Homo sapiens: one gene and its partner. The protein of the gene in region 2 interacts with the protein of the main gene of each other region in a pairwise test. Each region holds a gene or a part of one and is shown on either strand. Other genes may lie near its edges.

Region 1 (3,660 bases), on a different chromosome or scaffold from region 2:
GATGGGATCTCACTATGTTGCCCAGGCTGGCCTCAAACTCCTGTGCTCAAACCACCCTCCTGTCGCAGCCTCCCTAAACACTGGCATTGCAGGTGTGAGCCACCACACCCAGTCCCCTTGACCTCTTTCAGCCTTGGTTTCCTGTCCGTAAGTGGGAGAAATGTCACCTTGGCAGTCTGTGCAGCTTAGGAGAGACAAGTACATTTGATGTTGGTTACTAAATGTTGGACCCTGGACCGGCACTCCAACAGCCGGTGCCCTGGGGGGCAGCCATCAGGTGGGGCATTTGCAGGCCTCTTCTTATTCAGACAGCTCCAGGTGCTGAGCGGAATCATTGTCCACATTCACTCTGTCATTCTGAAGCAGTGTGTAGAACATTCTAGAACACTCACCACGTGGCATGCCCCTGCTGGGTCCCGGTGATGCAGCTGTGAATGAAGCAGGCTTGGGGTTGCTGCCACCTGGGGAGGAGCAGAAGGACTGTGGTCACAGCCACACGTGGACGCGGTTACTAGGGTTCTGGTGGGTGCTGTGGAGGGTGCAGAGGGCGTGTGATGGGTCATCCTGAGCGATGCAAGCTGGGCCTGGAGGACGTGGAGTGTTCGCAAGGGAAGAGGGTGGGCTGGAGTGACTGCAAGGAGAAGGTCTCGGGAGGTGGAGCTCGGGATGTGGGGAAGAGCTCCCTGGGCCTGGTGGCCGGTCAGCAGGGGCCAGGTCGGGGAGTGGGTGCAGAGAGCCTTGGAGAGGCCAGAGAGGGGTGATTCGGTGCCCATCTAGGGCTTCCTTTTTGGTTAGCAATGCTTCAGGGCACCTGGGAGACATGAGGAGCTAGAACCTGTGCTGCAGTTCCCAGCTCTGCCCCTGCTCCCTGGGTGTCCCAAACCCTGCTCCTTTCCAAGAAATGTTGGGATCTCATCTTCAGGATGGTGGGTGCTAATAGGGAGGCTGAGGTGGGTGGATCACCTGAGGTCAGGAGTTTGAGACCAGCCTGGCCAACATGGTGAAACCCCGTCTCTACTAAAAATACAAAAAATTAGCTGGGCGCAGTGGTGCATGCCTGTAGTCCTAGCTACTCGGGAGGCTGAGGCAGGAGAATCACTTGAACCTACCCGGGAGGTGGAGGTTGCAGTGAGCCGAGATCACACGCCTGGGTGACAAGAGGGAAACTCCATCTCAAAGAAAAAAAAATACATGCATGATGAAACACACTAAGCAGTTGGGTCAGAGGGGAATTATCAGTAGCAAGAAAGAAGCTGGGCTGGTGACTAGCACCCGGAATTTATGCTCTCTTTCTTCATGGGCCTGTGCGGCGGTACGTAGGCTGCGGGATTGACTTTGAATTCTTCCTGGCTGCCACAGCAAAGAGACAGGATCAGGTTCTTGATTCATGATGCCCTTAAGGTGTTAGGGGAAGAAAAGCAAGCGTGAGACCAGGCGCGGTGGCTCACACCTGTGATCCCAGCACTTGGGAAGGCTGAGGCGAGTCTATCCCTTGAGGCTGGGACTTTGAGACCAGCCTGGGCAACACAGACATCATCTCTACAAAAAGTAAAAAAATGAGCTGGGTGTGGTGGTGAATGCCTATTGTCCCAGCTGCTCTGGAGGCTGAGTTGTGAGGATTGCTTGAGACCAGGAGTTTGAGGCTGCTGTGAGCCAAGATCACACTGCTGCACTGTAGCCTGGGTGAGAGAGTGAGACCCTGTAACCAAAAAAAAAAAAAAATCAGCTGTGGAAAAGCATCACGTGTTTCCCCTGCGCTGAGGCTGATTCTGCAGGGCTACTGATGTGCATTGGTAACTGCTCATGTCTGTCCTGTTCACAGATCTGCCGGAGGCGCTGGGCAATGACCCCGGGACTCCAGGCCAGAGGGGTCTGAAGCTGTTTGGGAAAGCAGCGGGACTCCTTGGGAAGATGGCCATGGCCCCAAGCCCTTCCCTGGTGCAGGTGTACACCAGCCCCGCGGCTGTGGCCGTGTGGGAATGGCAGGACGGGCTGGGCACCTGGCACCCCTACAGTGCCACCGTCTGCAGCTTCATCGAGCAGCAGTTTGTCCAGCAGAAGGGCCAACGTTTTGGGCTTGGGAGCCTGGCCCACAGCATCCCCTTGGGCCAGGCAGACCCCTCGCTGGCCCCTTACATTATTGACCTCCCCAGCTGGACCCAGTTCCGCCAGGACACCGGTAAGACGCTGTCTGCCTCTCGCACATATCTGGGTGCCGCACCTGCTTTCCCACAGGCTCTGCGCCAGGTGTTGGGGTGATGGACGTGACTTACAGAGCTTCTGCTCTCTCCCTGCAGCACACGTGGTGGTGGGTGGGTGCAGTGAGTGGGAACATCCACATAGGTTGAGTGCAGCTCACAGTGGGAGAGGCACTGTGGGAGGCCCTTCCCCTTGTCTTGCAAAGCAGAAATGCCTGTCCCGACCACAGAGGTTGAAGGGTTCCTTTGGCCGGCAGGCCGGCATGGAGGTGGTGCGTCATAGGAGTTCAGAGGGCCCTGTCCCACCACTCAGTGGCTGTGTGCCCTGGGCAGGCAACTGCGCCCCTCTGCATGTGTGCGTTTCTGCTTTTTGGTCTGCGATGTGTTTTGATCTTTTTTTTTTTTTTTGAGACGGAGTCTGGCTCTGTTGCCTAAACTGGAGTGCAGTGGCGCAGTCTCGGCTCACTGCAACCCCTGCCTCCTGGGTTCAAGCGATTCTCCTGCCTCAGCCTCCCGAGTAGCTGGGATTATAGGCATCCACCACCACACCTGGCTAATTTTTGTATTTTTAGTAGAGACGGGGTTTTGCCACGTTGGCCAGGCTGGTGTCGAGCTCCTGACCTCAGGTGATCTGCCTGCCTCGGCCTCCCAAAGTGCTGGGATTACAAGCATGAGCCACCGCGCCTGGACCTGCAGTGTGTTTTGATCAGTATTATTGAGAATGAGGCACCAGTTTCCTCTCGGAGCCATCCCTTACTCTAATCTGGTGGTTGTCACTGGGGGTGATTTTGTCCCCGGGGCCATCTGACAATGTTTGGAGACATTGTTGGTTGTTACAGCTGAGTGGGTGGGAGGTGGGGGTGCTCCTGGCATCTGGTGGGTGGAGGCCAGGGATGCTGCTCGCCATCCGGCAGTGCACTGGGCTGGCCCTGCAGTAAGGAATTATTGGCCCACAGTGTCACCAGTGAGGAAACTTGAAAAACTGGTTTTTCCTTTTTTTTTTCAATTTTAATTTTAGTTTTATTTTTAAAAGTATGGGTTTTTTTTTTTCGTGTTTGTTTGTTTGTTTGTTTTTTGTAAAGACTGGGTCTCCATTGCCCTGTGTTGCCCAGGCTGGTCTTCAACTCCTGAGCTCAAGTGATCCTCCTGCCTTGGCCTCCGAAAGTGTTGGGATTACAGGCTCGAGCCGTCATGCCCAGCCCTGGAAACTATGTGTTTCCAGGAGTGTCGTAGAGTCTGTGAAAACTGTGGCTGTCAGTCAGCTCCCAAGTCGTTGCCTTCACAGTGTGTGAAGTCAACTGAGAAAGATAGCAGACAGGATAAATAATAACATGGAAATTGCATATCGTGGCAGAGAGCAGGAAGTGTTAATCGGGGAATGAAAGTGGCAGGTGTTGTAGAGGTCGATTTGAAGTTAGCTGGGTGTGGTGTCATGTGCCTGTAGTCCCAGTTATTTAGGAGG
Region 2 (2,323 bases):
CTTATCAGTCCTGGATAAAAATGTTGCCTAAGGATTCTAAGTCCTTTGGCCCCACCTGAGACAAATGCTGAATGGAACCACTTTTCATGACCTCCACTGCTGCCTCTGAGGTCCACGTCATCGTCAGTTTTTGCCTGTTCTATTGCAGTGGCCAACTGATCTAACCACCCCATCCCTTCTCCACACAGCAGCCAGAGGTCTCTAGAACCAGGTCAGGTCAGGTCTTTGGCTACCTGCCACCCAGAGAATCGCATACCCAGATTCCTGATCACAGCTCACAGCACCCGCTCTGGTCAAAACATGGTGTCAGGTCCCTTTGCCTTTGTGGGTCCCTTTCTCTGCCTGACAGGAGTTGAGCCTCTTCACCCAGGTCTGGGCTCAGACACTGAGGCCTTCCCCACCTCCCCGCCCAAGGTAAGTGTCCAGCACAGGTGCTTGATAGCAGTGTTTTTTTTTAAACAGTAGGTTTCATCTGTTAGGTTGTAAAATCAGTTTGGTAGGTCATGGCCGACAGTTTGTTTTCAACTTTTTATTTTGAAGTAATTATAGATTCACAGGAGGTTGCATAGGAGGTTGTCTAGGGAGGTCCTGGGTACCCTTGCCCCAGCCTCCCCCAATGTTAACACCTTATACACTACAGCACAGCATCAGGACGCAGAAATTGACATTGGTACAGTCTACAGAACATACTCAGTTTCCCCAGTTACATCTGTACTCCTTTGTGTACCTAACTCTACACAATTTTAACTTCATGTATAGCCCTGTGTAACCACCAGTCAGGCTGACAGATGGTTTTCAACACCACAGGACTCCCTCGTATGAACCACCCCCTCACCATCCCTAACCTAAACCCCTGGTAACCTTTAATCTGTTTTCCATCTCTATAATTACATTATTTCACCAATGTTACATAAATGGAATCCTGCTACATGTATGTTTTCAAGATTGGCTGTTTTTGCTCTGAAGAATTTCCTTGAGTTTCATCTGAGTTGCTGTGTGTACAGCAGTTACTGAAAATGGCACTATATCACATACAGTACGGATACATATTGTTTTGTATTTCAACAATAATATGCTATATATAACAGTCTATGCCAGATAATAATGTAAAATACTTATTATTAATATGGGGTTTTATCCAAAACATTTATTTTTATTTTTAAAACATTTATTTAGAGATGGGGTCTTGCTCTGTTGCCCAGGCTGGAGTGCAGTGGCACGATCATAGCTGACTGCAACCTCAAACTCCTATCCTCAAGTGATTCTTCTGCCTCAGCCTCCCAAGTAGCTGAGATTACAGGTGTGAGCCACCACACTTAGCACCTGTCCAAAAAGTTTGAAAGATATTGCTCTTATTACAGTATTTGTTTTCTTCATACCACCACCATAAAATACCAAACTGCTTCAGAAATTACCACCATTTTATTTTTATTTATTTTGAGACAGGATATTGCTCTGTCACCCAGGTTGAAGTGCAGTGGGGCACAATCATGGCTCACTGCAGCCTCAAACTCCTGGGCTCAAACAATCCTCCTATCTCAGCCTCCGAAGTAGCTGGAACTACAAATGCACGCCACCATGCATAGCTCATTTATTTTTTGTAGAGATGGGGTCTTGTTACGTTGCCCAGGCTGGTCTCGAACTCCTGGGCTCAAGCAATCCTCCCACCTCAGCCTCCCAAAGTGCTGGGATAACAGCCGTGAGCCACCACATCCAGCCACCGTTTTAAATTCCTATTTATTGATGTTTAATGTCTGTCTTTTACCCAAACTACAACAGAAACTCTTTGAAGACAACTTGTCTGTTTCAAAACTGTGGTCTTATAAGCCTCAAACCCTGTCCAACATGTGGACACTCAGATGTTGTGAAGCAATTGACATAGAAACAAATGCAGGAACATCCTGTCCAGAGAGATTATCTGTTGATGTGGAACTTGAGTAGTGAAGGAGGAGGCAAAACATGATAGTCACACTACAGAGGCAGGACTTAATGCTTCCTAACAGAGCATGCAGCCGCACAATGCATACCTTGCTAAACAAGCAGGTGGCAGGGAGCGTGGCTGCACTGAGGGGAAGCCCCTCATGGACTGGGGTGCTGGCTGGCATGCCCTGGCTTTTGCTGCACTCTCCAGCTCTGCCCCAGGAACCTGAAGGCAGCTGCTGCAATCCCAGGCATCACATGCAGGCTGCAAACTCATTTTATTATTTTATCTTTGAGACAAGAGTCTCACTCTGTCGCCCAGGCTGGAGTACAGTGGCACGATCTCAGCTCACTGCAACCTCTGCCTCTGGGGTTCAAGCAATTCTCCTGTCTCAGCTTCCCG

The links. The genes of interacting proteins can lie anywhere in the genome.
Region 1: the proteins of C22orf39 (region 2) and DTX2 interact in binary tests that used the Homo sapiens proteins (3 or more experiments, as listed by UniProt).

What each region holds. Positions count from the first base shown.
Region 1 is NC_000007.14:76,478,599-76,482,258, forward strand, and holds part of DTX2 (probable E3 ubiquitin-protein ligase DTX2), read left to right. Parts: intron 1-1,822; 5' UTR 1,823-1,911; coding exon 1,912-2,179; intron 2,180-3,660. UniProt on the Homo sapiens protein: Regulator of Notch signaling, a signaling pathway involved in cell-cell communications that regulates a broad spectrum of cell-fate determinations.
Region 2 is NC_000022.11:19,440,372-19,442,694, forward strand, and holds the end of C22orf39 (synaptic plasticity regulator PANTS), read right to left. Parts: 3' UTR 1,324-2,323; coding exon of another isoform or gene 1,273-1,323; 3' UTR 515-1,272; downstream 1-514. UniProt on the Homo sapiens protein: Negatively regulates long-term potentiation and modulates adult synaptic plasticity. Stabilizes the interaction of RTN4 isoform A/Nogo-A with its receptors, inhibiting clustering of postsynaptic AMPA receptors at synaptic sites.